Linked DNA regions of Homo sapiens. The protein of the gene in region 1 interacts with the protein of each later gene in a pairwise test. Each region holds a gene or a part of one and is shown on either strand. Other genes may lie near its edges.

Region 1 (16,419 bases):
GATCCACACCCATGACCCAAACACCTCCCACTAGGCCCCACCTCCCAACACCACCACACTGAGGATCAAATTTCAACATGAGATTTGGTGGGGACAAACCATAGCACTAGTTCCTTTACATTCCATATACATTTCATAATGAGCTTATCTATAAGAACAAATCCTGCTTGGATTCTAATTGGAATTTTATTAAGTCTACAGATCAATTTAAAAAGAACATACGTCTTTACTAGGTTGAGCCTTCTTATCTCTCCATTTATTTAGGTTTTCTGGGGTTTCTTTCATTATCATCTCATCATTTTCAGCATCCAGATCACATTTTGTTAGATTTCTAAGCCTTTCATATTTTTGAAGCTACTGTGATATTCTTTAATTTCTAATTGTACATTGCTAAGATATAAAAATGACTTCTGTATGATGACCTTGCACTCTGTGATCTTGTTAAACTCACTTACTAGTTTTAGGAAATTTTCTCATAGACTCCTTAGGATTTTCTGTAGGTTTTTTTGTAGATGTCCTATGTCATGTTAAATTTCCTTCCCTTTCTAGTTTGCTGAGAATTTTATCATGAACTGATGTTGAATTTTGTCAATTTTTTTCTGTATTGATATAATCATGATTTTTCTTCTTCAGACTGTTAATATGGTAGATTACACTGATTGATTTTCAAATATTGAACCAGCCTTGCATTCCAAGGATAGTTTCTTTTTTTGTTATGGTGTATTATTATTCCTTTTATATCCTGCTGGTTTAAATTTGCTAATGTTTTCTTGAGGATTTTTACATTTATGTTCATGAGGGTTATTGGTCTGTAGGTTTCATATTTTGTGTTAACATTGGTTTTGGTATTAGGGCAATGCTTACCTCATATAATGAGTGAGGAAGTGTTCCCTCTTCTTTTCTGAAAGTTGTTTAGAACTGGAGTTTTTTCTTCATTAAATGTGTTGATAGAATTCACCAGTGAAATCATTTAGGGTAGAGATTTACCTTTCAGAAGGTTTTTAAACTATTAATTCAATATCTTTACTAGTTATTGGACCATTCAGGTTATCTATTTCATGTTAGATGAACTGTGGTAATTTGCAGTTTTCAAAAGAATTGGTCCATTTCATGGACCTTCTTTGCTTCTCACTCTATGTATGTACACTCTATGTACATACATAGAGGGAGAAGAAAGAAAATGATAACTCAAGACTGTTTCAGGAATACAGTTGTTTCTTGGTGTCTATGGGGAACTTGTTCCAGGACCCCCGTGGATATTCAAATCCTTGGATGCTAAAGTCCCCCATATAAAATAACGTGGTTTTTACATACAGGCTACACACATCCTCCGACAGACTTTAAATCATCTCTAGATTACTTCTACCTAATACAATGTCAGTGTTATGTAAGTAGCTGCTATACTGTATTGGTGTGTTATTTGTATTGATGTTTATTGTTGTATTGTTATTTTTATTTTCTGATATTTTCAATACATGTAGGTTGTATCTACAGATGTGGAGCCCACAGATACTTGACCGTACTTCAAATTCTTGTCTTCTTCACCAGTCGATTGCTACTATGTCTTTGTTCCAGAGTCCTCAAATAGTTTCTCCCTGTCTACTCTCCAGGATTTATAGCTGCATTCAGTGGGAGACATGAAAGGAGTATGCCTTCTCCATCTTATCTGGAACTGAAGCTAGGTTACCACTATGTCTAATTTTTAAACACAAAATTGGAATCATACTGTACATACTCTGTACTTTTTTTAAAAACTAGCAACATGTCACCAACTTTTTCCAAAGACTGTTAAAAATCTTTCTAAAACATAATTTTTAATGATCATATGTATTGCTACAATTCTGTTGTTTCCAATTTTCTCCCCATTTTAAACGGTGCTGCCATGAACATTTTTTAACATAAATTTCTGTACAAATTTGATTATTTCCTTAGGATAATTTCATCAAAAAAATTTGGTGCCTGGTCTCTGGGTCCAGCTGCTGGGAAGGAGGACACTGCAGTCTCAGCACCCACCAGCTCCTCCTCCTTCCTCCTCCCCCGAGGTGAATGTGCCCTCAGAAGTGCAAGCTGCTGATTAACTATGCTGCATTTTTTATGACGTGAAAGTTCGGAAATGCTCCACGCCAAAAAAAAAAAAAAACAAGAAAAGAAAAAAGGCTGTCATTTTTTGTCCCAGTGCAGACAAAGTGCATTGTTGTAGAAGGAGGTGAAGAGACCTTGGTTGGAGATGTCTAAGTGTAGCCATAAGCGGTCCTTCAAGCATGTGGTGGCAATGTTTCCTGAAAAAGATGTCTCTGTACTTTGTATGAGGCAAGCTTTAAAACCAAGGAATCCAGAAGAGTTGATGGTTTTGTGTGTGTGCGTGTGGGCACCAGAACTAGCACCTCTGAAAAGTAAAATGATCTACATGAGCTCCAGGGAATGCAACCAAAAAGAAATATCAAGGCATAAAACATGAACATCAAGCAAAGGGGCCAGAAGTCCTCCCTTAGGCCTGTCCCACTGGGAAGCCAGGCGGCCTTGGTTGTGGCCTCTGCAGGGTGCCCTGTGTAGATCGTCCTTCAGTGCCACAAACTGAAAGTGCCCGTGTTTACGCTTATCCTCTTGTTGTGTAAATAAAGCAAATACATTTAGGCCAGAGTCTTGCTGAGGGGGAGCTGTCCCATCATCTACACCACACATTCTATAAATATGTGCAAACAGCCTTAAATACATCCGAAGTCTGAAGTGTTATTGGTATGAAATTAAATTCTTACTGGCCACGTGCCTGTTTTCATGAGCTGACTTATAAAGACTTTCGTTAAGCTCAGGATTTGTGATAATACAGTCAATAAAACAGTACAAGGCTGTGTGAAGAGAATTATTACATCTTTGTTAACCTCAGCAGTTACTTTGTTTCTTTTGCTTAGAAAATTCGTCATAATGTGGTTGTAATTTTGGTCCAAATTCTTTATTCTTCCTTGAGCTAAAGAGAATAACGGAATATAATATGTCCTCATCACATATTGACAGCACGAATACACTAACAACAGTAAGACTGAGTCTGGCAGTCTTTTAATTCTACCAAATGTGCAATGGAGATCCTCAGTGACCTTGCAAAGCGTCCTGAAAGGTCCAGGAGGCAGCCCCTGCACCTGCAGTGCCACTGGCTAGTGGGAGACTGCTGAGTGTGCAACCTGCTTCTCGGAAATCGTGGCGTGGCCTCAGGAGAACAAGCAAGATCCTGTAACAACTAATGATAACGCAAATTAGGGCTCAATTGTCACCTGCTTTGTTAACAAAAATGATTAAATGGTCTGTTGACAATCTAGGACACCTGTGGTATCTTTACTTGCGTCTCCTTCAGAACTTTGCTGCTTCTGGAAAAACAAAAAAATTTTAATGCTCTTTGACTTATTCTGCCCTATTTTCCTTCAAAAGGCTTTACCAATTTACACTGCCAAAAAAAGGGCATGGCGGTGCACACTTCCCCACAACCTCAGCATCGGGAGCATCAGATATTAGAGGATTGCTCAGCCAACTTCCCAGGTCAAAACTATTACAGTTACTTTCAAATTGTTGGTGGCATTGAACAACGTTCAAGCTCCTGGCCTCTGGCATTTCTCTGCCTTTCTAGTCCCTGCTCACCTTCCATGAGGTTACCTTTATCTTATGCTTTTCTTATTGCAACTCTTTACGTCACACAATTCTTTAGCTGCAATTCTTTAGTTGCATTTACCATTTAATAGTTTTTAGCTGTGCTAATGTATGAAGGGGAATTTTTTGTCAAGTATTTTATTTGACAGCTTCATTATGAACTTGGTTCTTAGAAAAACCTTTCCCATCCTAACAACAAATAAACTTGTAGCAATTTTTTTGTTTCCTCCTTTTCTTAAATATTTAACTCTTGAGCCCATCTGAGGTTTATTTTAGCAGATGGTGTGAAGAAGGGCCTCTTTTCTCCAAATCAGTCGTTCCAGCACCATCTCTGAACAACTACATGCCCTTGCTGCACTGACTGAAAGCTGCCCCTCCTATGCTAAACGCACATGCACTCTTCTCTGTCTTCAGACTTTTACTACATGTCAGCGTCAGAGTAGGAAGATGGGCCAGGAGAGATGAAGGCCTGAGGGCTGAGGGGCTCTGAGAACAGGCAGACAGCAGGCAAGGAGGACATGAAGAGGGACAGACGCACAGGTGCAGGGGAGAGGCAGACAGCAGGCCAGGAGGACGTGAAGAGGGCCAGACGCACAGGTGCAGGGGAGAATGCGGCAGCTCAGGAGAGGCGCAGCCTGGGGACGGAAAGTGAAGGTGGGTACAACCGCACCAACGACTCCCAGATTCATACCCTCCCTCCCTCAAATCCGACCAACCCTGTGCCCCAACAACTATCGCCATAGGAACTCTTGCAGCCCCGTCTGCCCTGTTCTGGGCCTCCTTGGCCTGAGTAATGATGGTGGTGGTCCCTCAGTCTCCCTGGGGGGGAGTCTGAAGTCGGAACTGCCTCAAGCCCTCACCTGCAAAGCTCCGCCTTCCCCCTCCACTGCCTGCACTGGAGAAAACCACCACATGGTCCTGTCTGACTCACCCCAGCACTCCTCCAAATGTCCTGCTCAGGGTGGCCCCTCCAGGCCATCGCCCACCGAGACCCCAGGCCATGTCCCCACTGCCCAACCAATAGCTGGCCCTGCACATCGGATGGGCATCCTATGTTCAAGACCCACACAGATGTCCACCCTCCCCAGGGCCCTCCCTACCCCGGCCCCCAGCCAGTCCTGGTGGCCCACTCCCTGCGGCTCAGGGCTGGGAGGCACCGTCCTGCTCACGCCAGGCCCCCATCAGCACATCCTGCCTGCTGGCCCTGCTCTGCATCCCCCACACCTGCCCCATGCCAAGCCCTGGCTCCTGCATCCTGACAATAAAGCCATGGTCAGTCCTGGAAGTCTGTGCACCTCCCACACAGAGGGGCCTCCCCTCACACAGAATGTCCCAGGCCTCTCTGCATGCTGGGGCTGGACCACAGCCAGTCCCTGGCCTCCAGTCCCGGCCACACATACCCAGGGGCCTCCAAAACACAGCCCACCTCTTACTCCATCACTCACACACCAGTGGCACTCCCTTCGGTGTCCAGGACGTGGCACAAAGTCCTCAGACACACAGTTCCCTACATCTGGCCTCTGCCTCCCTGATGCAACACAGTCTGGCCAATCCGGCCACTGGGCAGCCCTGGAACACGGCAACACGGTGAACACAGTGGCTACTCCTCTCCCCTCCCTCTGCCCCACGTCCCTCCTGTGTCCCTCTCACCCAATCCAGGGCACAGCCGGACACTCCAGCAGCCAGGCTTCCCCGTATCACCGCCCACACAACCTTGGCCTCACCACAGCCTCACTCCTGCTCTGTCCTCTTTTTGTCCCCGTGGCCGGGGCACCAGCTGTCAACAGATACTTATTGAATGGGCGCTGCTGTTCAGGGCAAAGGCAAATGCCCCTTCAGGGGGTAGGAGTGGAGCCCGTTTCTCCTGTGTGTCATCTTATGGCTCCACAGATGTTATTAATAAGCCAAGTCACAGCATGGACATTGAGTCTATTTACATTTATCTTCTGACAACAAAATTTCAACAGGACTAAAAGCCCAATGCCATCTGTTACCAGGGGAAACCGTTTCCTGGAAAGCAGCAGCCATACTCCACACTCCTTCACCCAGACCCCATCTTTCTGGGTCTCTACACTGAGACAAAGTTTCAGGTTGGGATGCTCCACTACAATGTCCTGTGTCCCAGGATGCTGAGCCCAGGAAGACAGCGCGGGCAGACAGCATCCAGCCACACTCCCGTCAACTTCCCTCCAAGCAGACAGCGTTTGTGCAGGGCATATTCACAGGCAACCAGAAAACAGTCCACTTCCACCCACATGTGAAACTCAGGGTGAGCAACCCTGACAGGACAGGCATATGCTGGCCCTACAGATGCCCAAGTGGCTTCACAGCATCACTGGGGCCAGTCTAAGGCGAGGAGACCCTGGCCAGGGACGAAGGCCCTACTGGCATTAAAGAAACAGCCTTACCTGTTAGGCACAGGATTTTTACAGATCCCCGAGGAGAACACAGTTCATGTAAATCACTCATGAAAATGTTACATGAACTTTGACTTAAATTTCTCATAAAGGCATTTTTTAAATCAGGTGAAAATTCAAGACACTGAGCCAATGTCCACACAAGAAATTAATTAGACCTCACATTAGGGAAAACATCAAAATGAATCACGCACGACCCTTGAGATCCTGAGGTTGGCCCAGCCGAGCCCGTGCTCAGAAGCCCCCCAGCTCCGGCCCCCAGCTGCCCGCACGCCCGCCCTCACCAGCAGGCAGGTCCCCATCCACTCAGACACCAGCACGTCCACCTTCTCGGGCAGCACCACATCCTCCACCTTCTGCTGGTACACGGTGATGATGTCAGCAAAGCCGTTCTGCAGGACCAGCTGCCCCGTGTGCTGTGCCATCTCACTGGCCTCCACCGCGTACACCTGCAGCAGCAGAGGCACCGTCAGCGTACATCCGGCCGGCACACGGCCCGTCATCTACTCTCCTGAGTCACAACCAGCATCACGAGAAATGGTCAATGACACAAGAGGGAAGCAGCATTCCAGACAGCAGAGGCAGCGAGGACTGGCCACACCTGCCCCTCCAGGGGCACCCAGAAAGGAGCCGCCTCTAACCCTCCCAACTGCCCCCACCTCCCGGACAAGACACAGACGCAGGGCTGCAAGTGGATGGAAGACTCGCATGCCCGAGCCGGCTGCCACACGCACAGCAATCTTAATCCATGACCAGCACAGCAACTTCTTAGCACCCAAGTGACAATGCTGGTCTGTGCCACATCTGAGGCCTGTCAGACAATTTCAAACCCAGGTTCTCAGGGAAGGGTCTGGTGGGAAGCACCCAAGCGCTGGGTCCTGGGTCCTGCAGAGCCTGGACTTGGGTGGACACTGTGCTGCGACCCCACCCACTGTGTAAGGAGTCTCCAAGGCTGCAGCTCGGCTCAGCTCAGCACAGTATAGACGGCCTAAGAGGGGTGGGGAGGGGGCCCAGCGTGTGCATCCCTCCCAACCCCATGAGACCAACCACACCCAAGGCCCAGCACAGACATGTGGGTGCACGTGTTTCTCTACTCAACTGAAATAAACGTCTCACAGAACATACCCCGCCCCACGCAATTCACGGGATATTGTCTATTCTGCCCTACTCCCGTCTGTGCTGTCTGCGACTCATTGTACGCGGGCGCCACGGCCTCTAGCACGCGGTCTCCACGCACTGCTATTTTACCGACCCTGAGCCCCACGTGCAGGGTGCTCAACAAGACCATGGAGTCACCGGTGAGCCCCCAACAGCTCAGGGTCACAAGTCAGCACACTCAGAGGCCACCTCGGACGTCACCAGCCTCGGCACAAACACCCGGGATGCGCTCGAGACCCCACTCACCGCTCTAGGCCGCGCATAGTGTGCACAGAAGAGACTGATGATCCCAGTCCCACAGCCCACGTCCAGGATGACTTTATCCGTCAGGGATTCTTTATTCTGCAGGATGACACTGTGGTATTTAGTTGTTCGTGGCTGGTCTGCCAACATCTCCAAGTGGAGTTTCTGGAAGAAATGCACATTCAGAATCACTGCCTGTGACCTAGAGCCATGCTGAGGTCTGGACTGAGATGGAGGGTCAGAGCCACAGCTGATGACCCCTGACCCCAACACCCCTATGGAAGACTATGGAAGGCCTGGACATCACTGTCAACCAAGTTAATCTCATTGGTATTTAGAGAACACTTCACCCACCCCCTTATAACAGTAATAATACACAAAAAATACCTAGGAACAAATTTAACAAGAAAGGTGCACAACCATGTATGACAAAGAGATATTGTCCTTATCTTAAAATACTAAGAGATATTAAACAAAGCTTAAGTAATCAGAGACTGAGAGTCAATGTTATAAAGATGTCAGCTCTCCCAAAATTAACATAAACATTCCATGCAGTACCTACTAAAGGAGAAAGCACAACAAAATGATAATAAAATTAGTTTCAAAACAGTAAGTGCCCAAGGCTAATGAGGAAAATGCTTTAAAAAAAAAAGAACTGCTGGAGACCTAGCTCTTGCAGATCCTACAAAGGTGCAGTGATGGAAATGACGAAGCACTGGGAACTGCAGTAAACAGACCAGTGAAACAACAGGAATTCTACAGCAGACCCCTGAAATCCAGAGCAGGACAAACGCACCGTTTCACATCAACGCGAAGGGAACTGTCCAGTAACTGAGGCTGGGGTCGCTGGAGATTTGTGGGCATACATTAGGGCGGAATTTTACATTATATTTTTTACAACAAATAATTTCTAGATTTTTTATTATTTAAAATCTCATTGTTTAAAATAGAATCAGAAGGCCAGGCAGGGTGCCTCACCCCTGTAATCCCAGTACTTTGGGAAGCTAAGGTGAAGGTCCCTTAAACCCAGGAGTTTGAGGATACAGTGCACTATGACTGCACCACCGCACTCCAGCCACTCATACGACAGAGTGTGACACCATCTCTAAAAAACATAAAAAACAAAAATAAAATAACACAGAATCATAACAGTTCTGAAAACAAAAGTGTGGGTATTTATAATCTTATAGTGAGGAAGGTTTTTCACAAAGAAAAGAAAAAGAAGTCACAAAGAAAAGAAAACCATATTAGGCTATACAAAGAAAAAAGTTGTACGTGGGAAAAAATTTCACAAAGTCACAAAACTTCACAAATTCAGGCTAAATTACTTAACACACGAATCAACAAAAATCAAAAGGGGCAAATAATATGAAAGTTTACAAAAAAAGAAAAAATACAAAAGGCCCATAAACACATAAAAGATAATCAATCTTACTTAAAAAATGGAAATCAAAACTAAAAGATGCCATATTTAACTTTTAAGATCAAAGTCCTTTTTCACTTTGATTTGTGGTAGGGAAATGAGCTTTCACACACCATCATGCCACGGTCTGAAATGTCTCCAAAAATCCATGTACTGAAACTTAATCGTCAGTGTGATGGCATTAAGAGGCCACCTTTGGAGGTTACTATGAAAGGGTTTGTGGTGAAAGAGGTGCTCCCAGCCCTCCCGCCTTCACCACGTGAGGACAGCCATGAGGCGCCATCTTGGACACCAATGCCAATGCCTTCCCAGCCTCCAGAACTGCGAGAAACAAAGCTTTGTTCTTCATAATTCACTCAGTCTAAGGTATTTTGTTACAGCAGCACAAACAGACCAAGTGTATAATTAGCAAATCTTTCTGGAGGGCGAACTGGCAAGATCCACTTAAGGAAACCACATGTACACACTACACACACACACCCCGTAGGAATTTACCCTATAGAAATTCTAAACAGCATTTAACAGGATTATACAGGACTCCATTACAGCATTATTTATCATGATAAAAAGCTATTAAATAACCACTGTCCAAATATCAACAGGACCCTTTTAAAGTAACACAACGCTCTGCAGCTGTTATAAAGAGTGACAGGTGCCAATATGAGAGATCTTCAAAATACTACAGCTACGTGAAAAGAGCAAGGTGAAGACCTGAGTGGTGGAACAATGCCTTTTCTATACATTAAAAACGTAAAATACATTAGGTGTCACTTGGACTTCATAAGCACAGAGGAATCTGGTGGGCAGTGGTTCTTTGAGCTGAGAGGCGGCAGAGGTGGGAGGCTGGAATTGGCTTTTCATTATGTATCTTTCCTTAACGGATAGAAATCACTAACCATGTACAGACATGAATAGTTTTTAACACTTTTAATTGTGAAATATGGCATACCTGCGAAAAAGTGCAATAAAAAGTATCTGCAGAGTTAGTCAAGTATTGTTATATAGCAAACACCTCTATACCTATATCCAACCCCAGAACACTGCCAGCATGTCAGAACTCCTGACTCAGCCACGCTGGTCCCAGAGCCTCCCCTACCAGCAGGTAACCTCCATTCAACCAACAGGGGAGCCACTCCTGCCCTCAGTCAGTCTCAGCACCCATGCACACTCACAAACAGTACCTTCCGGCCGGGCGCAATGGTTCATGCCTGTAATCCCAGCCCTTTGGGAGGCTGAGACAGGAGGATCACTTGAGGCCAGGAGTTCAAGACCAGTCTGGCCAACATGGCAAAACCCCCTCATTAAAAATACAAAAATTAGCCAGGCATGGTGGCACGCACCTGTAGTCCCAGGTACACAGGAGGCTGTGGCAGGAGAATTGCTTGAACCCGGGAGGCAGAGGCTGCAGTGAACTAGGATCCTGCCACCACACTCCAGTCTGGGTGACAGAGCAAGACTACGTCTCAAAAAAAAAAAAACAAAAACAAACAAAAAACCTTCTAATATGGCCTCTTAACTTTATATAATTGAGTCAAACGTTATAGATTCTTTGCCCTATTCCTTCTTTCAACTAACATCATTTTTATAACATTCATCCTGCAAGTAACTGTTTTCATCTAGTTTTAAAATGTAACCAGAGATTGTTGCCTGGACCATCGGGTTATAGGCATTTCTCCATGGTGGGGAAAAAATTTCGGTAAGCTATTTAGAAGCTGGGCTTTTATTATTTTTTTAGGGACAGAGTCTGGTTCAATCACCCAGGCTGGAGTGCAGTAGCGCAATCATAGCTCACCACAGACTTGAACTCCTGGCTTCAAGTGATGCTCTGACCTCAGCTTCCCAAAGTCCTGTGATTACAGGCATGAGCCACCACACCTGACCTAAGTAGTATTATTCATAGATTTATAGAATTTTTTCTATTTTTTTTTTTTTTGAGACAGGCTCTCGCTCTGTAGCCCAGGCTGAAGTGCAACAGCGCCATCATGGCTCACTGCAGCCTTGGCCTCCAAGGCTTGAGCAATCCTCCCACTTCAGCCTCTCGAGTAGCTGGGACTACAGGCGTGCACCACCATGCCCAGCTAATTATATTTTTTTTTAATTTTTTTTTTGTAGAGACGAATTATATTTTTTATTTTTTCTCACTATGTTGTCAGGCTGGTCTTGAACACTTGGTCTCAAGCCAAGTGTCCTCTTGCCTTGGCCTCCCAAAGTGTAGGGATTACAGGTGTCAGCCACCACACTCAGCCTAATTTCATTTTTAAAGTAAAATTTACTGCTTTTTTTTTAAATACTGAGGGAGCACGCACATAATCTCATTGCTCAAATCATATCTCTAAGCCAGGGGTCGGCAAACTAAGCCATGGGCCAAATCTAGCCCACCACCTGTTTTTGGATGGCCTCCAAACTAACAGTGGGTTTTACATTTTTAAATGATTTTTTTAAATCAAAAGAAAATACTTTGTGACACATGAAAACTGTACAGTATAAATTCAAATTTCAAGATCCATAAATAAAGTTTTATTGGAACACAACAGTGCACACTTTGTGTGTCATCCACAGTGGCTTCCACACAACCATGTCAGAGCTGAGTGGCTACAACAGAGGAGCTCTGGCCTGTAAGACTATGGGCCTGCTCTGAACGTTGCAGTAGAACTAAAGCTAGAGAGAACCCACCGCCTGGCCAGCTGAACAGGGAATTTAGAAAGCAATACCAGAGTTCCATAGCTGCCGAAGTACTCTTCATCCTGCCACGTGTCCTCGGGGTCGTACTCATCCACGTGCTTCCCCACATGGTTTGCCGGAATGTACCCACAGCAGCCCGCACGCTCACCCCACCACCAATCTGCAGTGGTTTGTCTCAGGATAAGAATTTTTTCTCCTCTCAAAAAACTGAGCTGGAAAAAAAAAAGTTAAAATTCAATAAGAAAACCAGTCATTGGTATTTCAAATGTGGCTCAGTGATAAATCCCATCAATGGTGACAAAATCACAGAGATTTCAAACAGGAGTCAGTGGGTAATGACAGCAACTGAGAATGTTTGCAAGTGACACCATGACTTAGCGATGCCTCTGGAACATCTACCTGAAAGGAGGGCACAGCTTAACAGATATTTTTTAAAAGAAGGAGTAAACATTTTCAAATGGCTTAGGAGAGAATTTCTCAACAGCCTCTTCATTGTAACTCAACTATGCCAACTGAGTTACTGGAGGCTGACTCTAAGAAATTCCTGTCACAAAGTAAACAAAGCTATGTCCAAGCAGATATAGCTTGATATATTTGGTAGCCTTACTTTTCATTAACTGGGTGGGTTCTACATTCCAAGTAGAAACCAGAACAGGTGCTTCTGCCCCTGGCTGAGGGTCCCCACTCCATGCCTCGTATCTTTACATCATGCTTGAGGCAGAACTGGCTGGGCTGTGAGCTTCACACACAGGTCTTGTGTGGCCCTACGCATCTGAATACCTCTTCATTTAACTTTGGTGTGACGTCTGCAAAATTTATCTCCTTTTGACACTGAACATGCTGAAAGCCATAAAGCATTAACCACCACGTGTGGCTACCTGGGTCTCATCGGTGGCAGCGTAGTCCGCGATGGCCACAAACTCCTCTGGCTGTACTCCCTCCTGCAGGAGACCGGCCTCACTGCACTCAGCAGGCTCTTCTCCCTGCTCAAAGCCAAGGAAAGCGTGAGGAGAGGACGCTGGAGCTTTTTTTTTTTTTTTTTGGCTATATTATTAGGATGGTTTCAAATTTCAAATACAGATTCATGTGTCCAAGTATTTATTATACAAACTATTTGGATCATCTTTACTACTATAATCAAAGGCTGTCACCTTCACTCTACATTTCTTTTCTAAAAAAAAAAATTATCTGGACCCTAAAAGAGAACATCAAAGCAAGAAGTCAGAAACAGGCACCACTAGTGTCTATTTGGTGAGGAGCCCTTGTCCTTCATCAGCTTTGCTTCCTGAAGGTGATCATCAACCCCATGAAGAGAAACCAGTGTGAGGACAGAGCCAGGGGCCCAGCGCCCCAGGCAGGCACAGCCAGGGGCCTGTGGAAAGAGCTGATGGCATGGCACAAACCTCCACGAGGCAGCAGAGCCCAGCTTGGACCCACACAGGTCCTTGGAGCCTCCCCCAACCCCTCCATTTTTTTTTTTTTTTTTTTTTTGAGACAGAGTCTTGCTCTGTTGCCCAGGCTGGAGGGCAATGGCATGATCTCGGCTCAGGGCAACCTCTGCCGCCTCCCAGGTTCAAGTGATTCTGATGCCTCAGCCTCCCAAGTAGCTGGGACAACAGGTGTGCACCACTACACCCAGCTAATTTTTTGTATTTTTAGTAGAGATGGGGTTTCACCATGTTGCCCAGGTTGGCCTCGAAATCCTCAGCTCAGGCAATCCACCTGCCTCATCCTCCCAAAGTGCTAGGACTACAGGCATGAGCCACCATGCCTGGCCGTTCACTTTATATAAGAATAAGCTTGCCTGGAAGACATCACTGCAGGGGGCAGAACCTCAGATCACACACTCCAGTTCAATGAATCAACCTTGTCTCAATACATACATTTTAAACACATTTTCCTAAACATAAAAGTAATTCGTGTTTACTTTAGAAAATGTGTGAAAACACCAAGTACACAGAAGAAAATTAAAACCTCCTGTAATTTTGCTCACTGATCACAGATAATAACAGACAGCACATTGGTGTTTATACTTTCAGACTTTTAAAAAAGTGGACACGTAACATAAGTACAAAGCATTCACTGGGTTCACACAATAAGCCTGTGGCCTATGGTTTTCACTTTATAAACTCTGAACATTTTTCTTATTAAATATACTTCTAACACTATTTAATATCCAGTCTATGAATTATCAGGACTTACCTATCCAGTTTCCTAGTCTTGTACATTTAGACTTTTCAGTTTTTACTATTCTAAATCATGTTAAGATGAACTTCTTTCAACATAAATCATTCTGTATGTACCTTAATCTTCTTAGGGTAAGTCTCTGAATGTGAACCTGATGGACTGAGACTATGTGGCTTTTGGTTTTACCACCCAGTGCTCTCCAGAAAGGTGTTCCCTGGACCGCTTGCTGAGAGGGAACCACCAATCTTCCCACACTCTCACTCAATAGATACCAATCACTTTAGTCTCTGTCAATTTCATGGGTAAAAATCACTGTTGTTACTTCCATTTCCCTCTCTTTGTGTGGTTAGGCGTTTTTAAAATACTTGCTGGCATCTTTTTTTACCTTACTGTCTATTTGTACCCTTCGTGCTTTTCCCTATGCCAGGAGCATGACTCACTCTAAGGCAGCACTGCCCTCTGCTTGCTCTCCACCCCATCCCCGATCCACCCAGCCCAGGCAACCCTTACTAACCCCCCGGTGTGCGGCCTTCCACACCTCCACCATGCCCATGTCACACACAAAGCCCTGTGTACACGTATACACACACACACACACACACACACACACAGGCTGTTTCTTTGTTTGGCTTTTTTTTTAGGATGGAGTCTCGCTCTGTCGCCTAGGCTGGAGTGCAGTGGCACAATCTCGGCTCACTGCAACCTCCACCTCCCCAGTTCAAGCAATTCGCATGCCTCAGCCTCCCGAGAGGCTGGGACTACAGGCGTGTGTCACTACGCCCGGCTAATTTTTGCATTTTTGGTAGAAATGGATGGGGTTTCATCATGTTGGCCAGGCTGGTCTCGAACTCCCCACTTCAAGTGATCTGCCCACCTGAGCTTCCCAAAGTGCTGGCATCACAGGCGTGGGCCACCACGCCTGACCTGCACTTTGCTTTTCTTACACAATACCTTCTGGAAAAACTCTCCAACTGTTAGAACCCTGATTTACTACCTTCAATGGCTATACGATATTCCATAGCAGGAATTCCGCTTGATTCTTCAGCCATCCCCCTTTGATAGACTTTGTCTTGGTATCCAGTTTTCTACCACCATAACCGATGCTGCAATAAAAGAAGTCTGTGCACAGACAAGCTTATGTGATGACATTTTATTTCTGCAGGATAGAATGCCAGGGTTGAAGAATACGCTTTTTTTTTTTTTTTTTGAGATGAGGTCACCCTCTGTCACCCAGGCTAGAGTGCAGTGGCATGATCCTGGCTCATGGCAACCTCCACCTCCCAAGCTAAAGCAATCCTCCTACCTCAGCCTCTCAAGTAGCTGGGACTACTCTTGGTACAATATAGATACTATTTCACATCTCAAGAAATTGTTTTACAAACATATTGTTTTCCCAGTTATCTTGTTTATGATCAGCGCCTCAAGAGTCAGGTCAACAGAAATTTTCCAAACTGAAGCACAAAATGAAAAAAAAAATAAGAATAGAGCATGAGACATGTCAAACAGCAGCAAAAATTCTAACTTATGTTTACATGGAGACCCCAAAAAAGAAGACAGAAGATGAGGCAGAAAAAAATAAATGAAGAGATAATGGTGGAGATTTTTCCAAAATTAAAAAAAAAAAACCATCAAGGCCAAGGTGGGCAGATCACCTGAGATCAGAAGTTTGAGACCAGCCTGGCCAAGATGGTGAAACCCCGTCTCTACTAAAAATACAAAAAATTAGCCGGGCGTGGTGGTGGTCACCTGTAGTCCCAGCTACTCGGGAGGCTGAGGCAGGAGAATGGTGTGAACCCAGGAGGCGGAGCTTGCAGTGAGCCGAGATCGCATCACTGCACTCCAGCCTGGGCGACAGAGCGAGACTCCGTCTCAAAAAAAAAAAAAAAAAAAAATGTAGGCAAAACACATTTCATAGTTTGACACAGCAGACTCACACTAGTAAATATAAACATAAAGTTGTCAGGTTGAAGGGAAATGATCCTACATGAAAACACAGAATGCAAGAAAAAGGGAAAGACCTCAAAAAAGGCAAATAATATGTGGGGAAACATAAAAAAGACTATTTATTTTACTTCATAAAAAAAGACTCGATAGCGTAAAGCAATAATGATAATTTATTGTGGCGTTTACAACATATGTAAAATTAAAATGTTACATCAACAGTACAAAAATATGGACGCTGGTAAATGAAACTAACTTCTAAGATCTTTACCTTATGAAGTAGTTAAAAAAAAGACTGAAATTGAATTAGGATGCATACTGCAATTTCTTGGGAAAACACTAAAACAATATAAAAAGATACAGCTAACAAGCTATTAAAGGAGGTAATATGGAATTATAGAAAATCCTTTATTTATCCACAAGAGGGCAGGAATGGAGACATGCAGGAAAAAGAAATGTGACAAACATAAAACAAACAGCAAAATGTTACACTTCATCACATTCGTCATAACATGAAGTGTTAATAGACTAAATACTCCAATTAAGAGGCAGAAATTGTGTTTAACAGAGAAACAAAAAAACAGACCTAAGAGCTAGACCCAACTAGCTCTTTACGAGAAAAACGCTTTAAATATAAGGACTTAAGTTGAGGGAAAAAAAATACACACACACACACACACAAACACACACACACACACACTTTATGTAAGCACTAATGATAAAAAAAAAAAG
Region 2 (16,419 bases), on another chromosome or scaffold:
TTTGTTTGTTTTTTTAAGATTCTTGTAGAGCTGTGTCTTTTCCTATCATTGATACATTTAAAAGCATGAAATTAAGCATAAATATGGAAGGTAGAGCTTTATTCCAAGCTCTGTACAAAAGTGAGTAAACTTGTTTGCACTTTTGAACACACTTATGTCCTCCAGTGAGTGAAATTTGGGCTTATTTCACCTTTAAACATTCAAGGTTTTTTTGTTTTGTTTTAAATAGAGCTTAAAAATTGACATTTAAAAAATTCAGACCCCAGAAAATTAGTATGATAAACACTGTTGAAGAAGAAGGGAAGGGGTTTGAAGTTGGTTATGCTAAGCCTGAATCCTAGTGCTGCCACTTTACAATGCAAAAGAGCCTCTTTCCACATCTGTGAAAATGAAACTAATTGGATATGTACTTTACTTTTTATTTTTTCAAGACAGAGTCTCACTCTGTTTCCCAGGTTGAGTGTAGTGGTGGGATCATAGCTCCCTGCAAACTCGAACTACCAGGCTCAAGCAGTCCTCCCATCTCAGCCTCCCGAGTAGCTGGGACTACAGGCATGCCCACCATGCTCGGCTAATTTTTTATTTTTTGTAGAGATGAGGTCTCACTATGTTGCTCAGGCTGATCTTGATCTCCTGAACTCAAGTGATTCTCCTGCCTCGGCCTACTCCCAAATCACACCTGAGATTACAGGTGTGAGCCACTATGCCGGCCCCATATACCTTAAATGTGATGTACTTGTAAGGATTAAATAAATTCTAAGCTGTGAAAGCACCTATTTCAGGGCTTGAAAGATAAATCAGCCAGGCGCAATGGCTCACGCCTATAATCCCAGAACTTTGGGAGGCTGAGGTGGGCGGATCACCTGAGGTCGGGAGTTCAAGACCAGCCTGACCAGGCCAGGCGCGGTGGCTCACGCCTGTAATCCCAGCACTTTGGGAGGCCGAGGCGGGTGGATCACGAGGTCAGGAGATCGAGACCACGGTGCAACCCCGTCTCTACTAAAAATACAATAAAAATTAGCCGGGCGCGGTGGCGAGCGCCTGTAGTCCCAGCTACTCAGGAGGCTGAGGCAGGAGAATGGCGTGAACCCGGGAGGCGGAGCTTGCAGTGAGCTGAGATCGCGCCACTGCACTCCAGCCTGGACGACAGAGGAAGACTCCGTCTCAAAAAAAAAAAAAAAAAAAAAAAAAAAACCAGCCTGACCAACATGGAGAAACCCTGTCTCTACTAAAAAAAAAATTAAAAAAAAAATAGCTGGGCGTGGTAGCATGCGTCCGTAATCCCAGCTCGGGAGGCTGAGGCAGGAGAATTGCTTGAATCCAGGAGGCAGAGGTTGTGGTGAGCTGAGATCGTGCCATTGCACTCCAACCTGGGCAACAAGAGTGAAACTCCATCTCAAAAAAAAAAAAAAAAAAAGATAAATCAGACACTCAGTGAGTGTCGGATCTCCTCTTTCATCATGGGCTTTATCAGTCTCTTTAAATGTAGTACTGATAGAAAATAAATTGTATGTCCAGAAAAGTGTTTTGAATTCTGTGATTTTTATTTTAGACTAGGTTCTTTTTCTGGGCGGGATTTTTCATTAATAAATTGTTACTCGAACATTAGAATATATTTTCTTTATAAATTGTGTATATACTGTAGAGAAAATTATTCTTGTGCTTGTGGAAGTAAAACGTACACACAGGTATAGAAACAGTACCATTTCAGACCAGTCATGTTGCCCGGGCTGATCTCGAATTCCTGGGCTCAAGTACCACAAAACTAAAAGATCTGTAGAAAAATATGTAATCAATGATATTCTTATGTTGATGGATATGACTTTAAATTTTTCTTGAAATAAATATTAATTTTTTATGAGCTACTTTAAGTTCTTTCTGGAGGGAACAAAATGTCTAGCAGTCTCTTGAACATGCCCTTAGATTTGTAGTCTTCAACTTTGACCATATTGGAATTACCTAGGAAGCTTCAAAAAAGTATTGATGCTGGGTCCCAGAAATGTAATTTTAAATAGTCTGGTGTACACCCTGTGCATCAGGATTTTGATATGCAGGCAAGGTTGAGAACCACTGATTTAGAGCCTTGATTCTGGGTTGGCATAAAGATTAAAATCAAATGATAGCTAGGCACCTACGGTTTTGAAGTAAAATGATAGATGTAGTTACAATGGGAGCTGATATTTGTATAGCATTTTACAGCCTCACAGTCTTTTTCTTTATGTGCTTCTCATTTAATTTACATTTTCTGCCTCTTTGAATGTCTTTTGGTTGGTAACCACTATCAAAGGTGCATGATACTTCTGTTGCAAGCAAATGGATAGGTAATATATTTGCCACGTAGAAATTGTGCACATATCTACCCCTCTCCATCTTTTCTCTATGCTCATAGTTGTCCCTCCATCTGAAATGTTCTATCTTCCCATCCTACATGTCTTTTAAGGCTCATCTCTTTCCTAACGTAGCTTAAAAGATGCTACACAATTTCCATGCAGAACTGTTTACAGCCATCTATTTACATATGTGACCTGAATTAAATGTCATAACAAGTGCATCTCTTTTCAAGTTGGGAATATGAGATAGCCACATTCTAGGCTTTTTCTTAGCAAATGGACCTTTGAACTGTTTGCTGCCCAGTTCTTATTAGAAGCCCTTCTGTGAGAAAACATTCATAGATGTCTACATTGATATGTGATTCACCCATTCTTTTAGAATATGGTTATAAACTTTCAAGCAATAATTCAAGCAATATTTCAAGCAAAATAATTTGAAAATTTGCTATAAACTCTGGACTTTTGCCTGGAAATTGCATCTATACATATCTATTTATTTAGAAATCAGGGACGTCCTGATTCTTCTTTAGAGAACCATGTTGCTAGTTAAGAACCTGAACTGTTCTCAAAAGCACAGTTACATTATTAGATCAAGCCTAACCATTAAGAGGGCTAGATACACAGACCACGTTGTTTTGCTTCCCCTGATTAAATTGCTCTTATTGAATTGGGCATTGTTGTGCTTCACTCAGCATTAAAGGGCATTTTGAGAAATAGCTCTTTAAAATTCAATTTTTTTTGGTAGGAATTTTGGAGACTTTATTTCCATATTTTTGAAAACATGAGATTGCAATCCATTAGTGGGTTGTGAAACAATTTGGTGGTCCCAACCAGTATTTCTTGGTTTTGTATTGTTTCTTTTGCTTTTTTCCTATGCTATATTTAAATATTAATAAAATTACATTTTATCTTAGTGTCACCATTTTTCCTTTTTTAAGTATTGTTTCATGAATCTTTTTTAGTTTTTAATGTATTGTGGGTACTGGATTGCTGTGTAAAGTGTACTTCTTACTGTGTTTTGTAGTCAATAAAGTTTAAAAACTATTGTACTCATATTTTCTCTTAGACTCAGAGGAGAATCTTTTTCTGTTTATTCTCATTTGTAAAATGACAATAATGAGAGTTGCTACCTTATGGGTTTATCATGAAGACTAAATATATATAAAGTATTTAGAACAGTGCTTACCTTGCGCATAGTAGGTGCTCCATAAATACTAGCTGTCATTACCAGGAAAACAATCTTAGAGCAAATGCTTTGTTTTAATCTTAATGCACATTAAAGACATTTGTTGTTAATGATGTCCTTTGCTTTGGCTTCCAAGAAAAAGCAGCTGAGATATATATATATGTATATATATATATTTTTTTTTTGAGACAGGCTCTTGTTTTGTTGCCCAGTCTGGAGTGCAGTGGCACAATCACAGTTTACTGCATCCTTCATCTCCTGGACTCAAGCAATCCTCTCACCTAAGCCCTCTGAATAGCTGGGACCACAAGCATGTGCTACTATGCCTAGCTGATATTTTAAATTATTTGTAGACACAAAGTCTCGCCATGTTGCCCAGGCTGGTCTTGAATTCCTGGGCTTAAGTAATCCTCCCGCCTCAGGCTCCCAAAGTGTTGGCATTACATGCGTGAGCCTGACCTTCAGAGATCAATTTATGGCCTTTTGTCTATCTTCTATTAGCCCTGATTTGTCATCTTAAACTTTCTGTTGCATCTCTGCAGGGAGCCCTCAGATTCTTTCTGGGATATCAGAATCATCAAAATATGATAATTTAATTCCATTGTAACTTCAGAGATATTTTTATATTCATTTACTGTGCCAGGAGGGGAGGTAGAGGCTCTTGGGAACATTTACTGCCTGTTTAAACTGTACATTAACTCAGACACCCAGAGTGGTTAGTTTCTTAGCTTTTTACTAGATGGTTGAGTCCAATATGGAGAAGAGGATTTTGATAATAGCATTAGCTGTCTACCTTACTGAACAAGTTTGTTGGCCTAATCAAACCTACGCTTTGGGGAACTCTTAAGTTACAGTAGATTTCCTCATAGGGAAACTCTATTAAATCTTCTTAAGCAATGAAAGAAAAAGCTGTCCATTAAGAACTTTCGTGGAATAATATGGTTCAATATTTTTTTCCATAATGTGGCATCAGAATAATATTAGATTTTTAAATTATTTGTCAGTGTTAGATATTATGTGCTTTTTGTTGCTGTGGTACATACTGTGTGTCTTATCATAAAACATTTTGGAACAAAACGGTAAGCTTAATTTATATGATTAAAGTAAATCAGTTTATGTGGTTAAAAAATACGGGCACAAGGAGATGTTTTGAAAATGTGGAGAATTGTAATTTTCTGAACTCCCTTTAGGGATATATACTTGTTAAGGCTGATTTCTCAGTTATATGTTTTTAGAAACATAGTATTTGCCATTTTGAATCTTTAGTGATTAAAAACAATCAATTTAAAGTTGAAAAAAACTAATTAGACTTCTGACCATATTTAAGGTACATTTTAAGAGGTGAATACTTCCATGTGTCCCAGACTTTTTGAAAACTAGAGATCCTCAGAAATAAATGGTAAAAGACAGGCTATAGAAAATTTTCCCCTCAACAGGAAAGTTATATCTAGATCTAATTTTTACCACTTTTAACAATTTGGAGAATTTGCTATCTGACTTGCAAGTCCAAACAAATTTGGTAGAATTTGTTCTTGATGGGAATAAATTTAAAAATGCAAAGGAGAGAGTCCAGTGATTGGCAAGAGAAAATAGTAGAAAAGGAAATAGAGCGAAAATAAAAATTTTGACAATGGAGGGCAGCAATTAACAGAGAGGAAATTACAGCCTCAGAATGCACACCTGTATTTAGTAGGATGTTGGAATATGAAATGTTTGTATATCAGAGGGCTGATGGCATGTGCTTTGATAATGCAGTCATGGTAGGCATAGCTTTGCAATTTAAATTATAGGGAAGAAATGGAAGCAATATTTGTTTTATTGTAGAGATATTTGGATTTTTGTAACATGTGAATATTAAGATCTTTCCCCAGCTGTATTGGAGGATATGTTAATCCTCCAATGAAATCATTCATGATCTTTGGGATCATGAGGAAATCTAGGAAGTCAGTGACTCAGGCATAAAATTAGAAAGGCTTGAACATTTTTAAATTGTACTAAAGTTATAGAGAAGGGAAGTCTTAAGTGGGCAAGGGATGGTAAGTGGGAACTGACTATGTACTTGAAAACATTTCAGATGTCATGATGTGCTTTTTATAGGGCTGTCTTTGTTAGCACAAAATAATTTGTGGAGTGTTTCAAGGTCTACTTGAGATAAACTCTTACTAACTCATGATTTCCAGAAAAGCCTTAAATTCCTCAAAGGTCTTGCTGGAAGGAAACCTAGCTCAAGGGGAGGGGAGGTCTATAGTCTTTGGGATTAGAAAGACTCAGGTTTGAAAGTTAGTTTTGCTATTTAATTCATGCTTGTGTCAGTGATTTCACTTTGGACCATGGCTTGTCTCTAACAAGTATACAGTAATTTTTCAGTTTTTGTGAAGTTTAGATATAATGGGTTTGGCATCCAACCTATGGTAGCTGCTGTTATTTGTCATTTTAGGAGCCTAATCTAGTGACTGTGGAAGGATCTATGGTATTTTAATTGTTTTGCTTCTATAAAGTTTTAAAGGCAGTATTGTTCAGAACTGAAATATAGATGAAGAGAAATTCATCTAATTTGCATCCACTTTTCATTGCCTATTTCTCCAAGTGACTTCTATATCATCTTAGGCATGCATACTTTTGTAAAGTCCTTTATCTGCATAATAGCTTTTAACATTATTTTATTTAAAATACAACTTACTAGGTTTTTCTCTTAAATTTATAGCATTGTTTTATGATAGACTATTTTTCCATATCCTTATAAACTTTAAAAAGATTGTAGAGGTGAGGCGGGTATTTAAATATTTGAATTTTTCTATCTAAATGCAAGTTATCAGAAATGGCAAACTGGTTCCTTTTTTATGTTTTTTAACACTTGGAATATATCACAAGGAAAATATCTTGTGTATGTTAAAATGAGCATTATTTTCAGGCCTTTTTGGGGAATATTTAAAGTTTCTGTAATAGAGCTGTAGTATGTGTTACAATTGTAGTGGTCCCAAAATTTCCATTTGTCTAGCATTTGCTGTCTTATTTAATTTCACAAAGATAAATTTATTTGGAGACTACTAAAACTAGTAAGTGTAGAAGAGCTCTACAGAGACTTAAAACTTAACATTATGATCATTGTTGGGTATGTTGGTTCTAGCTTGTTTATTAATAAAAATTTTTATGACAATGCAAAGTAGTGAGCTTAAACTCAGGGATATTTTTCAATGTGTATTGTGATCTGGTTTTATTTTAAAATTTATTGCAAACACATTTTGTTTTTATTTCTCACTGCTTTTATTATTTTTTAAGCATCTAATTAGGTGAAACTGAATTGATTCAATTTTTATGTTACAGGAGATTACCTGGGGCAATTGATGTTATCGGTCAGACTATAACTATCAGCCGAGTAGAAGGCAGGCGACGGGCAAATGAGAACAGCAACATACAGGTTTAGTATTTTAAAATAAATAATTTTCTTTAACTGAAGGATGATATCAACATTATAATTTAATTTATTCAATAGATAGTCATAGTGCTATGCTGTGTTTTAGGTGATACAAAGAGATTTAAAATGTGAAGCCAGTCATTTATTATAAAGGCATTTCCAGTTAGAATTTATAATCTCTGAATCTTTTTTTAATAGGGTTTTCTTTCTTTTCCTTGGTAGAAACATAGTACAGGTTGAGTATCTCTTATCTGAAATGCTTGGGACCAGAAGTGTATCAGATTTTGAAATGTTTGGATTTTGAAATGTTCATACGTATGTAATCTTAGAGATGAGACCCAAGTCTAAACATGAAATTTATGTTTCATAAATAAGTTATTTAATTTGTTATAATGATTTGTTAATTTATGATAATCTTTTTTCCTTTGGCAACCCTGAGTAAACTGTGTAGTGGGCCTGAGTTTTGATTGTGATCCGTCACATGTGAGGTTGGGTGTGGAATTTTCCACTTGTGATAAAATGTTGATGCTCAAAATGTTTCGGATTTTAGAGCATTTCAGATTTCAGATTTTTGGATTAGGAATACTCAACTTGTATATAGGTTTACTGAATGAAAAATAAAAGACCACCAGTGATTTTACCACCTAAAGATAACCACATCTGGTACATCTCTTGATACTAAGCAAAATTGGGATACTATTATAATTATATTTCTGTGTATACTTTTTTCCCCATCTAAAATTATCATTTGTATGTTTTCATATTCTTAAAATATGATTAAAATATCTTCATGATAGCTTCATTGGATAAATATACCATGATTTATTTAATGTGACATTTCTGGAGGTGGCGTAGAGCTGCTTTGTTTTTAGGTGAAAAATTGAGGGGAGATAAATTATCAGTAAGTTGGATAATTAATGTTAGAACTTTAATAACTGAGACTTCCAGCTATTCATTTTGGCCATACTTTTTTTCATTATTTATTCCTATTTTCTGAGTCCTTTTAAAAATGTCCAGAGCACTTTATTCTTACCTTTGATAAGTTGATCATGTAAAATATTCCTTTTAGCATCTTTAAAGGCAAATCATTTCTATAGTGGAAGATGTTAGTCCATTTTTCCTTTCCCCTTACCATTAAAATGCCACGATTTCTCAAAATAAATACTTTAAGAAATAGCTTATCAGCATAAGCCCTACAAAAAACACTGCACTTAAATGTAGGAAGTGTTAATGGAAAGAGGGATTGTATGTTTAAAAGATTGCTTTAGTCAGCAAGGATCTGAGAAGTATAAATTAAATATACAACATTATGTTGGCTGTCTTTCCCAAATTTATTTACACATCCTTGGGGAGCTTATCAAAAATCCAGATTTTGAGGTGCCACTTTGCTTGTTTTATTTCAGTAGGTTTGGGGTGCTTCTTATGGTGCCTGTCCCTTAACCTGTTCACACAAAGAAGCATTTTGCAAACATTGCTTTATTTTTCAAGAATAAACCCTGGTCTTAAAGTTACAAGGCTCACATGATAAAGTTACTTACATATCTTGCTGCCTATTGCTTGCAGTCTGTTGACACATGCCTGACAGTTTCTTACTTTGCAACCTGGTGATGACAGGCCCTTGTACAGTGAATGTCTGACCTGCTGCCATGTTAATTTCTTAAGGCCAGTGTCTGTGATTAATGATTACATTGCCTTAATTGAATACTTCAACTTTGGTTGGGTGACAAAGATAATACTTGTTAAATGATCTTTATGAAGTACTTTTTTCTTGTGTGGAGTGTTTGTATTAATTACTTTTTATTAAGAAATTTTTGGTAATGATCCAGTTGTTTTTTCTTAAGATTTGAATATGCACATTTTTAAAACTGTATGTATGTGTATACTCACACAGGCGTATGTATACACATATCACACATGTAGAACTATTACTCTCCCCCCAAAAATACATATATGTGAATTAAACTACCTTTTACTTTGTTTCTTAGATTAAATGAAATTAATTTACTAAGATTAATCTTACATAATATTTATGCATCTGTTTAATTAACTGTGCTCTAATTTTAGGTCCTTTCTGAAAGATCTGCTACTGAAGTAGACAACAATTTTAGCAAACCACCTCCGTTTTTCCCTCCAGGAGCTCCTCCCACTCACCTTCCACCTCCTCCATTTCTTCCACCTCCTCCGACTGTCAGCACTGCTCCACCTCTGATTCCACCACCGGGTAAATAGTAAATAAGACATTTGACTTTGAAAGAAAAATAGCTTGCGAGTGTTTTTTAAAATTTTTGACAATTAAAATAATATCTTGATCACATTTCATTAAAAGTAATAGATATAATATCTTCAACAGATTCACACTGAAACAGATATATATATGTTTATTGCTATTTCAATATAGGAAAGAGACAATGTTCTAAAATTAAGAAGAATATACAGATACCAATCTTGTGATTCAAAAATATGATAATGATCCCCAAACTTAAGTTGCTAATAGAATATGTATAAATCCATACTCAGTTACAAACTTTACCAGTGTTAATTTGTTTTGAAAAAAACATTAAAAGATACTTTCAGGATGGGAGTAGATCAAAAAATTATATCTTGCGAAGAGATTGATTAATATTTCAGTCTGGTCTTCTTCTGTATACCGGTTTCCTTTTAGGAGACTGCTACTGGGTGCCTGGTATTTATTTCTTTTAAACAAAAGTAAATGTTGATCATATTTTTAGCTACTTTTGATTACAATTAAAAACCAGGTTAGTGGTGATAGAGAAGAAACTCACAAATAATTCCCAAATTTTATTTTTATTTGAATTTTTCATCGGGTTGCCTTTCTTACTTTGTTTTTAACCTTTATCTGCCTTAACCAAGTTTTTATGAAACTAGCAAGATTGATTGAGATAATAATTACTTCTTCCCAGGGAGAAAGCTAGTAGTAAATGATGAAAAAATAGCTGCTTGTCCTCATCAGGGCAACATGAAAGACGTATGTTAGGCTTTACTTCCTATTAATCAAATCAGTTTATACTAGAGAGCCATGTACTCTCACTCACTTTTATTTGCAAGAGAGCTGTCTTTGTTTTAAGGTGCCAGTTGTGATCCGAGTACAGAACCAAATCCAGGGTCTGAATAGTCCTTCCCTAACATATTCATCCTTGGCCTCTAAATGTCAGCCACTGCTTCTGTCTTTCATCTTCAGTGCCTTTGATTTCCTTCCACTGTCACCTCTACTCTCAAAAAGTATGAGAAAAATATGAAAAAATGACTTGTGGCTTTAGAGGGTCTGTTGTCTCAACAATAGTGGAAGGAAGAGGTTGGAATATAGGTTAGAGGTCCTTATTCCAGACAACATTAGTATTTCTAATTTCAGTGAATTTCTAGTTCCAACAAATAGATTGAGCAGAAACGACTCATTAGTTGGGATTGACTTGTGGTTCTTGTGTCTTTAATATGCTGAGTATTAACCAAATGAAAGAGGACTTAGGTGATTCAAAATGAGGACTTCTGTGATTTCTATGTGAATCCTTTGTCCTCTGAAAAAGAATTAGATAAATAAAAGGTAGAAATAATTAATGTTTCAACATATTTGATTAATGATACTAAAAAAATTATTAATGTTTGTGGTACTCTGTTGGATTCCTTTGTAATATTACTTAAACTTTACTAGGTAGTGATTTGAAATAATTTTCTTTTTTTAATTCTTAAAACTTTTTAAAAATTTTATTTTTGACAGTAATACTTGTATATGTTTATGGGGTACAATGTGATGTTTTGATTATGTCTACATTGTAGTAAATCAAGTTAATATATTCATCACCTCACATACTTAACATTTTTTTGTGGAGAGAACATTCTGAAATCTCCTAGCAGTTTTGAAATATACGGTTATTAATTATAGTCACCATGCTGTACAGTAGAGCTCCAAAACTTGTTTTTCTCATTTTACTGAAACTTTTGTATCCTTTGAAAATCATCTCCCCTACCTCACCCGTGGCCCCCAGCCTCTGGTAACCACCATTTTACTCTCTGCTTCTATGAGTTGGATCATATAAGCGAGATTGTGCAGTAATTGTCTTTCTGTGCCTGGCTTATTTCACTTAGCACAGTGTCCTCCAGGTTCATGCATGTTGTCACAAATGACAGAATGAAAGGATTTCCTTATTTACAAATATAGTATATCCCCAGATGGCTAACATTTTGTATGTTCAGTACTAATTATTAAAGTAAGTAGGACAGAGTTGGTATGAATTAATGACAACAAATACTTAGCTGGTATAAGAATATTCGAAACTCCGTAGAATATTGCTACAGAGGTAATTGCTACACATAGGCAGTAGCATTATCTGGAAGTTTACTTTTTTTCAAAATGATAAAATTACTTTTTTTTTTTTTTTTTTTTTTTTGGAGACAGGGTCTCACTCTTTCGCCCAGGCTGGAGTGCAGTGGTGCGGTCTCAGCTCACTGCATCCTCCACCTCCCAGGCTCAAGCGATCCTCCTGCCTCAGAGTAGCTGGTACTACAGGCGTGTGCCACCATACCCGGCATTTTTGTATTTTTTGTAGAGATGGTGTTTCGCCATGTCCAGGCTGGTCTTGAACTCCTGACCTCAAGCAATCTGCCCTCCTCGGCCTCCCAAAGTACTGGCATTACAGGCATGAACCACTACCCCTGACCATTTCTTTTTCATGTAACCTTTGTTCATAAGTATAACAAATCTTTGAAGAGTGTTTAGGTTATTAATGACATTATACTATAGAGTGCAGCTAATTATTTTTCTGTTGCTTAATCTATTTTTCTACTTAATTCTCAGCTACATGCTTTCCATATTTTAAAATCGAGATTTCCTTTTATGTTTATTCTTGGTTTACATTTCTATGCTCTTCTGTCAACATTTAATGAGTGCAGATTCAAATGAATTCTAATGCTGGTTTAAGCAGTACCTAACTGGTATATGTGCTGAGCAGGATACCAGTTCATTAAAACCAAATATTTGAAGTTGAGACTCTCTGAATTGCTCCTTACTTTTAGTAGAATGTGAGCTGTTGGGGAGCGTACAGGCTATGTATTTCTATCTATGTTTCCCTACAGTTTTAGTCAAGTGGTCTTGTACGTACTTGGCATTCCCTAATGTGTTTGCTAATTGAGTTAACGACATATTTATGTATCCATAACACCAAAGATGATTTTCGGATTTATACCTGGTACATTCAATCAGGATGGGCACTGGCTCTGAATAACAGTACGGCTGCATAGATATATGCCAGCTGCCATGCTTAAAGCTGTGGTTTTCAGTTACCCTTTACCACAGAACCACATGATTACACTATGTTCCGTAGTTTGTTGTAATTTAAATCACCTTAAGAATCATAAGCAGCTAATGAAAGAAAGCTATGATTCAGGATTCTTTTTAAAGTATTGCCTTAAAAGATATTCCATTTTTCTTAGATAAACTGTCTTGTTTTTTGCTTTCTTCAAAAATAATCAAAAGAAAATGGAAAAACATTTTTTTAAAGAATTAATTTAAATGTATTTTAATGTTGCCTTTTTAACATTAGACTTCTAATGTTTTTAAAAGTAAAGTCCAAAATATGATGAGATAAGTATAGTAATGATATTTTATTCTCATATTTTAGGATGCTACTAGATTTTTGTTTTGTTTTGTTTTGTTTTCAAATAAATAGGGTGACCATACATCCAGATTTGCCTGGAAGAGTCCTACTTTATACCTTCTATCCCAGCATAATTATTATTCATTCTTAGAAAGAAATTCCCTGGTTTAGATGATACAATTTCTGATTGACTCTTGGAAATTTACAGAGGTCTTATTGCATAAGTAGATAAGTTACTGTTTAACAATTATAAGGTGTTAGAGATAACTCTCATTTGAAGGACTTTTAATGTCAAATAGTTCACAGAAGAGGAGAAATGTATTGCCTCCTCTCACCCTTAAACACACACCTGCAAACGTATATGAAACTTTGCTAGTAACACAGAGAGGACAAAGTATTTCTGGCCATAATAGATTTGTATGAAGAGTAGAGGAGATTTATGTATTAGAATACAACAAAGAAGGAAGAGATGTCTGGAAGTGCAAAAGCATTTATCGTGGTTCCCTGCAGCCATACTAACAGTAGCTTGAAAACAAATACTGGGCCAGGCATGGTGGCTCATACCTGTAATTTCAGCATTTTGGGAGGCTGAGGCAGGAAGATCACCTGAGGTCAGAAGTTCAAGATCAGCCTGGCCAACATGGTGAAACTCCATCTTTACTAAAAATATGAAAAAATTAGCTGGGTGTGGTGGCATACACCTGTAGTCCTGGCTACTTAGGAGGCTGAGGCAGGAGAATCACTTGAACCCAGGAGACAGAGGTTGCAGTGAGCCGAGATCACACCATTGCACTCCAGCCTGGGCGACAAGAGCAAAACTCCATCTCAAAAAAAAAAAAAAAAAAAAAAAAAAGAAAGAAAACAAATACTGGCTAATTTAGTTCTTCTATAATATCCAGAAAATCTGTTATTTCATTTTCTCGTGAATCAGAAAATAGTTTCCATTGTATTAAGTTTTTTCAGAAATACATTACAGTGGTTTCATGCTTTTTCTGAGTAATAATAGATATAATAGCTAATACTTATTGAATGCTCACTTTTCAGGGTACTATTCTGAGTACATTCCATGTGTTAACTCATTTGATTCTTGAACAATATCTGAAGTAGATGATATTCTAATTTTGCACTGAGGAAGCGGGGACCTAAGTCATCTGAGTAATAGCTAGAAAATAGTAAAACCAGAATTCTAACCCAGGCAGTTTTGCTTGAAAGCCTGTTTTCTTTATTAACTATGTTGAAATGAATCAGTACCTATATCCAGAAAATCGTATTATTGGATTACGTGTATTTGTCACAGTCCTAGAAACTTTTTTTTTTAAAGCATTTCTCTGATGTTGAAGTACATGCATACGTATTTGTGGGTAGGGAAGTTAGGGAGATTATAAGGAACAGTCATCACATTTTTGAAAATCTGAATAAGGTTTTTACTGTTTGCCTGGCTTGTGTTAAGAAGTCTGTGTTTAGCTGAAGTCAGTTTTGAAATATTTGTTTATTGGAAGAAAAACTGTAAAACTGGAAGTATTAATGTTATAGGGTAGGTGATTTTGTGTGTTTGTTTATTGTGGTAAAATACAATCTATTTGTCATTTTAGCCATTTATAAATATGTAGTTCATTGGCATTAAATACATTCACAATGTTATGTAACCATCACCATGAGCTGTACCTAAAACTTTTTCATCATCTCCAGTGAAAACTCTGTGCCCACTAAACTCCTTCCCTCCTAAGGATAGCCCCTGTAACCTCTATTCTACTTTTTGTCTCTATGAGTTTCCTTATTCTAGGTACCTCATATAAGTGGAATCATGCATTTGTCTATCTGTGTCTGACTTACTTTGTTTCTAAAATAATAGAATTTAATTAATGATTGTGAGCTAACTTTATGGTAGGCTTTAATTTAGGCTTTTAAATGTTAATTTACTTCAGTGTCATCATATTTGATGTTCATTTTTTTTTTTGTAGTGGAGTTTACTGTAGAATAGAAGGTAAATTCAGTTAAACTCATTTGTTTTTGTATGAACTCTTATCAGCCTCAAATGACTAGTTCTGTGGGTCTTGGGAACAATTGAAATGTAGCCCAGTAGTGGAATTCTGCTGAGTTGAAGAAGGGTCTTTGCTTTACTGAGATATAGCCCAACTACTGTGGACCACAAACCAGGATCCCTGCTTTTAAAGTTAGCTATAGGGTTTAACTGTTTATCTAGATACCAGATGTGTAGGATTCTGCATTTTAGAAAGAAGTAGATTTCTTCCTAAAAGACTGTTGTCTTGTATCAGTGTCTGGCTAATCATCTAGTACTACTAATTTCATGAACTTTAAAATCTTATTTATTCCTTAAATATGTTAATTTCGGGTTAGGGATGATATATAGGAATCGGGTCAGGGGGTGGGGGCGGGTGGCGAGTTGCTCATATCTAGGGTCATTCTGCATTTCCTCTAAGTCCTGCATTCTCATTAGATTATTTTTCTGTTAGCAGTCTGGTTCTTTAGCACAGCAGTTCTCAAAACTTTTTGGTTACGTCTTCTTTAAACTCTTTAAAATTACTGCAGATCCCATAGAGCTTCTACTTATGTATGTTTTATCTGTTTTTTAATATTAGAAGTTAAAACTGAGAAATTAAAATATTAGAGATATGTATAATACACTCATTACATGTTAACATTTTTAAATTTCTTATGAAAAATAACTGTACTTTTCCTAGAATAATTTTAAAAATTTAGTGGGAAGTGGTCTTATTTTATGCTTTTGGAAATCTCTTTACTATGTGGCTTAGTAGAAAAAGCTGGTTTCTCCTGTTTGTTTTCACATTAAATCTATTGTGATATCACGAGTTATGTGGCCCCTGGAAACTACACTGTAAGAGAATGAGCATGAAAAAGGCAAATAACATCTTAGTAAATTTTTTTTTTTTTTTTTGAGATGAAGTTTTGTTCTTGTTGCCCAGGCTGGAGTACAGTGGCACTATCTCAGCTCACTGCAACCTCTGCCTCCCAGGTTCAAGCGATTCTCCTGCCTCAGCCTCCCGAGCAGCTGGGATTACCAGCATGTACTGCCACACCTGGCTAATTTTGTAATTTTAGAGATGGGGTTTCTCCATGTTGGTCAGGCTGGTCTTGAACTCCTGACCTCAAGTGATCCACCCACCTCGGCTTCCCAAAGTGCTGGGATTACAGGCGTGAGCCGCTGCGCCTGGCCACAGCTTAGTAAATTTATGAAAGTAGTTTTGACCTGGCAGATTCAGTAGGGTCTCAGGGACCTCCGGGAATTCCTGGACAGAACGTTGAGAACACTGCTTTGGCAGAAGCTTGGCCTGTATTGGATGAATATTATCAGTGCCCTTGAGGAAGTACACTTTTATCCCTTTAATTGAGAAACTAGTTTATGACTATAATGTTTATTAAGCTAATTTTATAATACCATGAATTTTTGGTCTTACTCAACAGATTACCTCAAATTAACTGGCACTGTTTGCCAGAAATGTAAGCATTTTCCAGAGTTACCATTAAAAAAGAACTCAAAGTTTTTGAAAACTGTATTTATTCTTGTGTTTTTCTATATTCAATTTAAAAAGCCTGCCTATCAGTGTTTTCATTAAATTCAAAACAGAGAGCAATGCTAATTATCTATAATAAATAGAATTTTCTGGCACAATTAAAATTTATTTAAATGTAAATTTAATAGAGATTAAAAGCTTTCTTAGGATGTTGATTTTTGAATGTGCTTTCTCCTCCAGGATGCACCCTTTATAATAGTTACATTTTGAATACATCATTGACACCACATTTTGTTGAATCTAATTACAGTTTAATTTGTGCCTTCTGCTTACACTGCTCTTTTGATCGTCTCATGATTATATGGAAGCTGGTAGAGATCATTTC

The links.
Region 2: the proteins of PRMT2 (region 1) and FIP1L1 interact in a two-hybrid assay, tested with the Homo sapiens proteins (2 studies listed by BioGRID and IntAct).

What each region holds. Positions count from the first base shown.
Region 1 is NC_000021.9:46,639,658-46,656,076, reverse strand, and holds part of PRMT2 (protein arginine N-methyltransferase 2), read right to left. Parts: intron 12,543-16,419; coding exon 12,438-12,542; intron 11,772-12,437; coding exon 11,589-11,771; intron 7,620-11,588; coding exon 7,458-7,619; intron 6,503-7,457; coding exon 6,338-6,502; intron 4,272-6,337; coding exon of another isoform or gene 4,071-4,271; exon of another isoform or gene 3,233-4,070; coding exon of another isoform or gene 3,023-3,232; exon of another isoform or gene 980-3,022; intron 1-979. UniProt on the Homo sapiens protein: Arginine methyltransferase that methylates the guanidino nitrogens of arginyl residues in proteins such as STAT3, FBL, histone H4. Acts as a coactivator (with NCOA2) of the androgen receptor (AR)-mediated transactivation.
Region 2 is NC_000004.12:53,419,032-53,435,450, forward strand, and holds part of FIP1L1 (pre-mRNA 3'-end-processing factor FIP1), read left to right. Parts: intron 1-6,840; coding exon 6,841-6,934; intron 6,935-8,995; coding exon 8,996-9,152; intron 9,153-16,419.